Linked DNA regions of Homo sapiens. The protein of the gene in region 1 purifies or fractionates together with the protein of each later gene. This does not show direct contact. Each region holds a gene or a part of one and is shown on either strand. Other genes may lie near its edges.

The links.
Region 2: the proteins of BFAR (region 1) and VAMP7 purify together in Homo sapiens (affinity purification with mass spectrometry, with the first as the bait; one large-scale study listed by BioGRID). This does not show direct contact.
Region 3: the proteins of BFAR (region 1) and EIF2AK3 purify together in Homo sapiens (affinity purification with mass spectrometry, with the first as the bait; one large-scale study listed by BioGRID). This does not show direct contact.

What each region holds. Positions count from the first base shown.
Region 1 is NC_000016.10:14,639,287-14,643,013, forward strand, and holds part of BFAR (bifunctional apoptosis regulator), read left to right. Parts: intron 1-3,727. UniProt on the Homo sapiens protein: Membrane-bound E3 ubiquitin ligase that plays a role in several processes including apoptosis regulation or reticulum endoplasmic stress. Has anti-apoptotic activity, both for apoptosis triggered via death-receptors and via mitochondrial factors.
Region 2 is NC_000023.11:155,933,307-155,937,033, forward strand, and holds part of VAMP7 (vesicle-associated membrane protein 7), read left to right. Parts: intron 1-3,727. UniProt on the Homo sapiens protein: Involved in the targeting and/or fusion of transport vesicles to their target membrane during transport of proteins from the early endosome to the lysosome. Required for heterotypic fusion of late endosomes with lysosomes and homotypic lysosomal fusion.
Region 3 is NC_000002.12:88,592,965-88,596,464, reverse strand, and holds part of EIF2AK3 (eukaryotic translation initiation factor 2-alpha kinase 3 isoform 1 precursor), read left to right. Parts: intron 1-801; coding exon 802-996; intron 997-2,406; exon of another isoform or gene 2,407-2,552; intron 2,553-3,059; coding exon 3,060-3,193; intron 3,194-3,500. UniProt on the Homo sapiens protein: Metabolic-stress sensing protein kinase that phosphorylates the alpha subunit of eukaryotic translation initiation factor 2 (EIF2S1/eIF-2-alpha) in response to various stress, such as unfolded protein response (UPR).

The DNA.
Region 1 (3,727 bases):
AGCACCCCAGAACTAAGAAATAAGTTCTTTTTTTTTTTTCAGACAGAGTCTCGCTGTGTCACCCAGGCTGGAGTGCAGTGGTGCAATCTTGTATCACTGCATCCTCCACGTCCTGGGTGCAAATGATTATCCTGCCTCAACCTCCTGAGTAGCTGGGATTACAGTCGTGCACCACCATGCCCGGCTAATTTTTGTATTTTTGGTAGAGATGGAGTTTCACCACGTTGACCAGGCTTGTCTCGAATTCCTAACCTCAGGTGATCCGCCCACCTCCATTTTGGTAGACAGAGCCTCCTAAAGTGCTAGGATTACAGGCGTGAGCCACCACGCCAGGCCAGAAACAAGTTCTTTAGTTACATGCATCATTGGGAGATTGTGTGTGTTCCCAGTCTTTCCTTTTCTTTTAGGGATTTAAAGATAATTATACTTTGTCAGTTAGGCATGTCTTCAGGAAAACATAGAGAAGGTCATGTTGATTATATATCTTGGAATTGTCCAGATCCTCAGAGATTATGATATTGGTTTCCTGTCAGTTGTGCCAACAATGATAAGTAACGACCTGACGTGAAATCAAGAGAGAGGAAAGCTCTGGTCAGGCACAGTGACTCAAACCTGTAACCCCAGCATTTTGGGAGGTCGCGGTAGGCAGATTGCTTGAGTTTAGGAGTTCGAGATCAGCCTGGGCAACATGGCAAAATCCCATCTCTGCAGAAAATTAGCCAGGTGTGGTGGCGCACACCTGTAGTCCAGGCTACATAGGAGGCTGAGGCAGGAGGATCACCTGAGCCTGGGGAGGTCGAGGCTACAGTGAGCCATGATCTCACCACTGCATTCCAGCCTGGGCAACAGAGTGAGACCTAGCTCCAAAAAAAAAAAAAAGAAGAAGAGAGAGAGAGAGGAAAGCTCGAAGCTGACAGAACTCCAAAAGCTAACTAGCCTAAAGCCAAGCTGCCTAGAAACAACCATATATACCCATTAGTACACTTGGAAGAAGGCATCACATTATGGGACAGGGGATGAAAGCTCGGGGGTCAGGCAGGTAACAGAACTGAAATGGACAGGTGGGAGAGGAGTGTAGCAAGCTGACGCTGGCACGGCTGCTGAGTTCCTCTGCTCGAGCTGATCTTGTCATGCGTGATGCGATTCCAGTATTGCCAGATCTCTGGGTTTTTGTTTTTGTTTTTTTTCAAGAGAAGCCAGGAATCTAGATTTTTATGTCATATCAGATTTTTTTTTGTAAATGCTGGCACCTCATTTAACTTAGAAAAGGGAGAAAAAACACCAGGTGAAGGAAAGCCTCCCTACAGGCCAGGTGTTGCCCTGGTAGGGCGGTGGCTACTGGTGGTGAGACTGTTCCAGGACACGGAAGATGGATGATGATGTTAATAATGATGCGTCACCGTGGTGAGGCTCACCTGCTTCCTTATAACCACTGCAAGAGGCAGAAGTGTGTCGCACATTAACACCCTCTTATCCCAGTAGATCAGCAGTAGCTCTTAACCGCCTCTGGGAGTTGGCCCCTTCTGAGAGCCTAATAAACCCTATAGACTGCCTTCTAGAAACATGGACGTACCATACACAAACGCAAGCGTGGCACAGAATTCAGACTTCCCGAGGCATCTCTCCAGATACCAGTTGTAGACCCAACTTTTTATTCAGAAACCTTAGCTCTTCAGAGTGACTCAGTGCCTATGGGAACTCCTGAGGTTTTGCTGTCCTCTTCAGTTCTAAGGTGTTCAGTCTATGGTTTTAAACTTGTTTGTTTGCTGTTTTGTAGATTTTTCCAAACCCAGTCATTCTTCCCATTCGTTTTTGAACTAAGTAATTATTGCTTCTCGCCCTTTTGGCTAAGATCAACTAAACTTGGTAAATAACAGTTATGATTTCCTAAACACAAGTGTATCCATATGAATGGAGCACCAGGGGTAGGAATAGAATGATTCTCCTCCCCGCAATCCTGCCCCTACCCCCTTGTCTTTGGAGCCTTCAAGATGGAGAAAACAGTGAAGAGAAGAGTAGCTGAGAGCTGCTTCTAACGCCTGCAGCCTGCTGCTGACAGCTAGCCATATGTGCAGAGAACAACTGTAAACATCCTTAGGAGGTGGAGGCCTTCTCAAAGAGGCCTTTAATTATTAATTAGTTAATAATTAATAACCAGCATTATTGCTGGTGCAGGAGGGTGTGAACCCAGGAGGCGGAGCTTGCAGTGAGTGGAGATCGCGCCCCTGCACTCCAGCCTGGGCGACAGAGTGAGACTCCATCTCAAAAAAAAAAAAAAAAAGTATACTATAGAGGCCGGACATGGTGGCTCACGCCTGTAATCCCAGCACTTTGGGAGGCTGACGCAGGCAGATTGCCCGAGGTCAGGAGTTCAAGACCAACCTGACCAACATGGTGAAACCCCCATCTCGACTAAAAATACAAAATTAGCAGATGTGGTGGTGCCTGCCTGTAATCCCAGCTACTTAGGAGGCTGAGGCAGGAGAATCGCTTGAACCCCAGGAGGTGGAGATTGCAGTGAGCTCAGGTTGTGCTATTGCACTCCAGCCTGGGCAAAAAGAGCAAAACTCTATCACTAAAATAAAATAAAAATCAAGTGAATTGTTACCATTTATGGTAGACTTACCATGTGCCAGGCTCTGTACTAGGCACTTGACTCGAATTCTCTTCTTTAATGCTGCAAAACTCCCACTATGGTTAAGTGCTGTCATTGTCCCTCATCTATATGGTGAGCAAGCTGAGCCTCACCGCTGGTAAATGGCAGAGGTGGGGTGAGAACCCAGGCAGCCCAGCCATGGGACCTGTGTTCCTAACCACTGTGCCTCCAGAGCATGAAGCGTGAGCCCTTCCCTGCATGGCCAGTGTGGGCGGCGGAGAGCAATTTTCAGTCTTTTCCTTCACAATAGCAAGATTGAGAAACTCACCAGAAATAGTATGAATAATCATTTCTATAGCGCGTATTTACACCATACAAATTTTGAGCCACTTTCCTTCACTGTCTCTAATCCTCACAAGAAATCTTGATGGTTTGTGTACTGTGACCACCATTTCACAGTTGAGGAAACTTGATCAGAGAGCTTGAGTAACTTCTGCAGAGTCACAGAGCTAGTGACTTGGGGGAGTTAAGAGTCCAACTCCAAGATCTGTGTCATACTACTTCTCAATTTAAAAAAATTTTTAAAAATGTCTCCTAAAACCCAGATGAAAACAAGAAGAGAATGGTCCTTTGTCATTTGCTTACCTTTTGTCATTTGCTTATTAGTAATATTAGCATTTCTGTGGCACCAAGCTGGCTGGATCCAGAGGGCATGAGATGCATTTTTTGGGTTGATTTGGAGGGAAAGGGTATATTGAGCCATGGCAGATTTGGCCTGGCACAGCTAGAAAATGAGGCTTCACTCACTTCTTGGAATTGCTCGCATTAGAGCCTCTGAAGTCAAATGTTTATAAAATAATGATTGCCTAATGAGAAGGCAGATTTGTGTGCACAACAAGTGTTATTTACAGGAAGCATATCTGTTGTTACCAACCCCAGACATTTTACTAGGCCAAGAAGCTGGTTTATTTAAAGTCATAGACCTGGAAAGGTCTTTGGGAATTTAATTGAGGCCAGGCATAGTAGCTCACACCTGTAATCCCAGCACTTTGATAGGCCAAGACTGGCAGATCACTCGAGTTCAGGAGTTCGAGACCAGCCTGGCCAACATGGTGAAAACCCACCTCTACT
Region 2 (3,727 bases), on another chromosome or scaffold:
AATTCGGCTGTGAATCCATCTGGTCCTGGACTTTTTTTGGTTGGTAAGCTATTAATTATTGCCTCAATTTCAGAGCCTGTTATTGGTCTATTCAGAGATTCAACTTCTTCCTGGTTTAGTCTTGGGAGGGTGTATGTGTCAAGGAATTTATCCATTTCTTCTAGATTTTCTAGTTTATTTGTGTAGAGGTGTTTGTAGTATTCTCTGATGGTAGTTTGTATTTCTGTGGGATCGGTGGTGATATCCCCTTTTATCATTTTTTATTGCGTCTATTTGATTCTTCTCTCTTTTCTTCTTTATTAGTCTTGCTAGCAGTCTATCAATTTTGTTGATCTTTTCAAAAAACCAGCTCCTGGATTCATTGATTTCTTGAAGGGTTTTTTGTGTCTCTATCTCGTTCAGTTCTGCTCTGAGTTATTTCTTGCCTTCTGCTAGCTTTTGAATGTGTTTGCTCTTGTTCCTCTAGTTCTTTTAATTGTGATGTTAGGGTGTCAATTTTATATCTTTCCTGCTTCCTTTTGTGGGCATTTAGTGCTATAAATTTCCCTCTACACACTGCTTTAAATGTGTCCCAGAGATTCTGGTATGTTGTGTCTTTGTTCTCATTGGTTTCAAAGAACATGTTTATTTCTGCATTCATTTCGTTATGTACCCAGTAGTCATTCAGGAGCAGGTTGTTCAGTCTCCATGTAGCTGAGCAGTTTTGAGTGAGTTTCTTAATCTTGAGTTCTAATTTGATTTCACTGTGGTCTGAGAGACAGTTTGTTATAATTTCTGTTCTTTTACATTTGCTGAGGAGTGCTTTACTTCCAACTATGTGGTCAATTTTGGAATAAGTGCGATGTGGTGCTGAGAAGAATGTATATTCTGTTGATTTGGGGTGGAGAGTTCTGTAGATGTCTGTTAGGTCCGCTTGGTGCAGAGCTGAGTTCAATTCCTGGATATCCTTGTTAACTTTCTGTCTCATTGATCTGTCTAATGTTGACAGTGGGGTGTTAAAGTCTCCCTTTATTATTGTATGGGAGTCTAAGTCTCTTTGTAGGTCTCTAAGGACTTGCTTTATGAATCTGGGTCCTCCTGTATTGGGTGCATAAATATTTAGGATAGTTAGCTCTTCTTGTTGAATTGATCCCTTTACCATTATGTAATGGCCTTCTTTGTCTCTTTTGATCCTTGCTAGTTTAAAGTCTGTTTTATCAGAGACTAGGATTGCAACCCCTGCCTTTTTTTGTTTTCCATTTGCTTGGTAGATCTTCCTGCATCCCTTTATTTTGAGCCTATGTGTGTCTCTGCACATGAGATGGATTTCCTGAATACAGCACACTGATGGGTCTTTACTCTTTATCTAATTTGCCAGTCTGTGTCTTTTAATTGGAGCATTTAGCCCATTTACATTTAAGGTTGATACTGTTATGTGTGAATTTGATCCTGTCATTATGATGCTAGCTGGTTATTTTGCTCGTTAGTTGATGCAGTTTCTTCCTAGCCTTGATGGTCTTTACAATTTGGCATGTTTTTCCAGTGGCTGGTATGTGTTGTTCCTTTCCATGTTTAGTGCTTCCTTCAGGAGCTCTTGTAAGGCAGGCCTGGTGGTGACAAAATCTCTCAGCATTTGCTTGTCTGTAAAGGATTTTATTTTTCCTTCACCTATGAAGCTTAGTTTGGCTGGATATGAAATTCTGGGTTGAAAATTCTTTTCTTTAAGAATTTTGGATATTGGCCCCCACTCTCTTCTGGCTTGTAGAGTTTCTGCCGAGAGATCAGCTGTTAGTCTGATGGGCTTCCCTTTGTGGGTAACCCGACCTTTCTCTCTGGCTGCCCTTAACATTTTTTCCTTCATTTCAACTTTGGTGATCTGACAATTATGTGTCTCGGAGTTGCTCTTCTCGAGGAGTATCTTTGTGGCGTTCTCTGTATTTCCTGAATTTGAATGTTGGCCTGCCTTGCTAGGTTGGGGAAGTTCTCCTGGCTAATATCCTGCAGAGTGTTTTCCAACTTGGTTCCATTCTCCCCATCACTTTCAGGTACACCAATCAGACGTAGATTTGGTCTTTTCACATAGTCCCATATTTCTTGGAGGCTTTTTTCGTTTCTTTTTATTCTTTTTTCTCTAAACTTCTCTTCTCGCTTCATTTCATTCATTTGGTCTTCAATCACGGATACCCTTTCTTCCAGTTGTTCGAATCGGCTACTGAAGTTTGTGCATTCGTCACTTAGTTCTCGTGCCATGGTTTTCAGCTCCATCAGGTCATTTAAGGACTTGTCTACATTGGTTATTCTAGTTAGCCATTCATCTAATCTTTTTTTCAAGGTTTTTAGCTTCTTTGTGCTGGGTTCAAACTTCCTCCTTTAGCTCAGAGAAGTTTGATCATCTGAAGCCTTCTTTTCTCAACTCGTCAAAGTCATTCTCTGTCTACCTTTGTTCTGTTGCTGGTGAGGAGCTGCGTTCCTTTGGAGGAGGAGAGGCGCTCTGATTTTTAGAATTTTCAGTTTTTCTGCTGTTTTTTTCCCTATCTTTGTGGTTTTATCTACCTTTGGTCTTTGATGATGGTGACATACAGATGGGGTTTTTGTGTGGATGTCCTTTCTGTTTGTTAGTTTTCCTTCTAACAGTCAGGACCCTCAGCTGCAGGTCTGTTGGAGTTTGTCGGAGGGCCACTCCAGACCCTGTTTGCCTGGGTATCAGCAGCGGAGGCTGCAGAACAGTGAATATTGCTGAACACCAAATGTTGCTCTCTGATCGTTCCTCTGGAGGTTTTGTCTCAGAGGGGTACCCGCCGTGTGAGGTGTCAGTCTGCCTCTACTGGGGGGTACCTCCCAGTTAGGCTGCTTGGGGGTCAGGGACCCACTTGAGGAGGCAGTCTGTCTGTTCTCAGATCTCAAACTCTGTCCTGGGAGAACCACTACTCTCTTCAAAGCTGTCAGACAGGGACATTTAAGTTTGCAGAGGTTTCTGCTGCCTTTTGTTCAGCTATGCCCTGCCCCCAGAGGTGGAGTCTACAGAGGCAGGCAGGCCTCCTTGAGCTGTGGTGGGCTCCACCCAGTTCGAGCTTCCCGGCAGCTTTGTTTACCTACTCAAGCCTCAGCAATGGCGGGCGCCTCTCCTCCAGCCTCGCTGCCACCTTGCAGTTCAATCTCAGACTGCTGTGCTAGCAATGAGTGAGGCTCCGTGGGTGTGGGACCCTCTGAGCCAGGCGCGGGATATAATCTCCTGGTGTGCTGTTTGCTAAGACCGTTGGAAAAGCGCAGTATTAGGGTGGGAGTGATCCGATTTTCCAGGTGCCATCTGTCACAGCTTCCCTTGGCTAGGAAAGGGAATTCCCTGACCCCTTGTGCTTCCCGGGTGAGGCGATGTCTCGCCCTGCTTCGGCTCACGCTCGGTGGGCTGCACCCACTGTCCAACAAGCCCCAGTGAGATGAAGCCGGTATCTCAGTTGGAAATGCAGAAATCATCCGTCTTGTGCGTTGCTCACGCTGGGGGCTGTAGACTGGAGCTGTTCCTATTTGGCCATCTTGGAACAGGAATCAAAGGAAATTTTTTAAAAATCCCATTTATGATAGCATCAAAAAGAGTACAATAGTTAGGAATAAATTTAACCAAGGATGTAATAATGTGCACACTGAAAATTATAAAACATTGATGAAAGAAATTCAAGAAGACACAAATCAATGGAAAGATACCTTATGTTTATGGATTGGAAGAATCAATATTATTAAAATGTTCATA
Region 3 (3,500 bases), on another chromosome or scaffold:
TATCACCTAACATACCATATAATTTACTTATTTATTAAGTTGTTTGTCTCGTGACACCAGAGTTTAACCTTCACAAAGGCAGTGATTTGTTTGCTTTGCTCGCTAATCTATCCCAACCATCAGAATGTGCCAGGCCATAGGTAAGCCCTTAATAAGCATTGTTAAAAGAAGGGAGGGCAACCGAGAACACAAAACCAGTAAGCTTACTTACTAGGCTTCTATCTCATTGCAGATTTGAGAAAGCAAATGAAAGAAGGGATGGGACACTACTTGAATCAGTATCTCTAAACCTGTGTTCCTTGGAGCTGAGTCTATGACAGTAATTGGCCTTGATAAAAATAGCCCTAGAAAATACTGCATATATTATCTATTTACACATTAAATATTCATATTACACATATTACACATAATCATGTTACACATTAACATACTAATTGCTATAAGAGCTCCTATAGTAACCTCTTCTTGAACTCACTTGATCATAAAACTCTCTTTTGGTAACTCACCTACCATTATGGGACCCTTTTGGCCCATGGTAAACTGAGTTTGAGAAAAATCTTACTAGAGTACTATGTGTAGGGCCTGGGAGTGATTGGCAGTTCTTTTAAATTACTTTTGGTTGATGGACTGCACTGCTTCATGTGCTACTCAGAAGGAGGCTGGAGTACATCAGGATCAAGACTCCAGCTCTTAATTACTATTATTCTTTTAAAGGTATGATGCTTCTATTTTTCTGGGAGAAATAAGAAAAAAATAATAATTAATGTTATGGCCCTTTTAAAAAGTTAGCTTCTGTTTTAGGTATTTGGGAATAAGATGATCATTCCTTCCCTGGATGGAGCCCTCTTCCAGTGGGACCAAGACCGTGAAAGCATGGAAACAGTTCCTTTCACAGTTGAATCACTTCTTGAATCTTCTTATAAATTTGGAGATGATGTTGTTTTGGTTGGAGGAAAATCTCTGACTACATATGGACTCAGTGCATATAGTGGAAAGGTAAGTGAAAATGCTGAATTTACTTTGGGGAAATCAGAGTAAATTAGGGTAGAAAAAGTAATTTATTAAACTACACTTATTATTAGTTGAGTTTTATTGTAATTTTCCCCTGAGGTTGTCATTTGTTTTAATAAGAGAACTGTGAGGTAGGAAGGGGAAACTAATAACAGAATAAATGGCAGAGCCAGGAATAGCAGGAGGAAGAGAATTCATAAATATGGTCTACTGTGTCTCAGGTGTTTTTTTTTTTTTTTTTTTTTTTGAGACAGAGTCTCACTCTGTTGCCCAGGCTGATCTCAGCTCATGGCAATCCCCACCCCCACCCCATTCCACACCCCCTCAGGTTCAAGTGGGTTCAAGCGATTCTTGTGCCTCAGCCTCCTGAGTAGCTAGGATTACAGGCACATGCCACCATGCTTGGCTAATTTTTGTATTCTTAGTAGAGACAGGGTTTTACTGTATTGCCAGGCTGGTCTCCAGCTTCTGGCCTTAAGGGATCTGCCCACTTCAGCCTCCCAAAGTGCTGGGATTATAAGCAGGAGCCACCATGCCCAGCCTCAGGTTCTTTTTTTTATACATTATTTTGCAATCTTCACAGTCTTCCTAAGTGTAACTTTCGTTTTTTTTTTTTTTTTTTTACATTTTGACAGATGAAGAACCTTATAAAGATTAATAGTAATCCTAATGATAAGAATAATTGATACTACTCATTTATAGGGTTTGATCCTATAATAAGGTGATCCAAGAGGAAAGTTTATACTCATTTTACAGATGAAGAAACTGAGACTTTAAAAGGTTCAGAAACTTCCAGGGTCACATTTAACTTAGATCTATCTGACAACAAAGTCATGCTGTTAATAATCTAGACTTTCTCCAACATTAGCTCTTAGGATATAATCATAATATAATCTGCTTCTAAGATTGGGTCTTATAAATCCATTATCAAGAGTAGCTAATTAAAAGCATCCTTTCAACCAGGCAAGGTGGCTCACACTTGTAATCCTACCACTTTGGGAGGCCAAGGTGGGTGGATCACTTGAGGCCAGGAGTTCGAGACCAGCCTGGCCAACATGGTGAAACCCCATCTCTGCTAAAAATAAAAAAATTAGCTGGGGATGGTGGCGCACGCACGCCTGTAGTCCCAGCTAGTCAGGAGGCTGAGGTACGAGAATCACTTGAACCTGGGAGGTGGAGGTTGCAGTGAGCTGAGATCACACCATTGTGACGTGTAAACGGTTTATATACAGACTTGGACTAAAATAAGGAAGAATAGAAACGTGGTCTTTTTACTCTTGCATTTTTCAACTTTAACAATTCCTTATCTAAGTGTTAGGCCCATAGCACTTTCTTGCTCTTGCAGATGCTTTTCTGCCTTCTCCACCCACCTGCATCTGCATTGTGTTGAGGAGGCCATGCCATCCTATCTGGCCGTTTTTTGAGCAAAGCACTTCAATCTCTGTTTACTTCGGTAGTCTCATCTGTAAACAACAGGATTGAACCCGATCACCTGGTTTTCCGATTTGATGTGCTGCTACATAATTCTGGTATTGTAGAAGGTATGCTTTTCGTGAGGATTTTAGTTTGGATCATATTAACTCTTCCTTTTTTCTTTAGTGAAAATTTGAGGCAGTTACTTTTGAATACAAAAAGCTCTCAGAAAAGTTTCAAATTTTTAAAAACCAAACACTTTTGTTATACAGAAACTCTAAGGTTGATTTTTTTTTTAACTCACCTGAAATTTTATTAATGATATTGTAGAAAAGCTATCACAAGTAGCTATCCATTTCTTCTTGTATATTCTATGGAAATCTCCAAAGTAAGGCTAAAATTATGTAAATCCTTAAAATCATTCCCTGAAATAAATATTCATTGGTACTGTCATTGTTCTAAATAACTCATTTTAGGAGTTGGTAATCTAACTGATGCTTCTTATGACTTGAGTACTTCATACACATTTCCTTAGTTTCCTTTCACTTTTTAAAAATTACAGATTCCTTTAATATCTCTGATCTATTATGAGTTGTCTCCTTTTACTAATTTTGTATCTAATTTTGTCTTTTCAGGTGAGGTATATCTGTTCAGCTCTGGGTTGTCGCCAATGGGATAGTGACGAAATGGAACAAGAGGAAGACATCCTGCTTCTACAGCGTACCCAAAAAACTGTTAGAGCTGTCGGACCTCGCAGTGGCAATGAGAAGTGTGTATTCAGATAATGTTGCTGTTGGTATTATTTAGAAATACACCTAATACCAAAATTTATCAGATTTCTGTTTGTGGAGATTTTGACTATTTTGTTGCCTTAAAAGCATATATATATATATTTTTTTGATACGGAGTCTTGCTCTGTCGCCCAGGCTTGAGTACAGTGGCGTGATATTGGCTCACTGCAACCTCCACCTCCTGGGTTCAAGCGAATCTCCTGCCTCTGCCTCCCGAGTACCGGGGATTACAGGCACGTGCCACCACACCCAACTAATTTTTGTATTTTTAGTAGAGACGGGGTT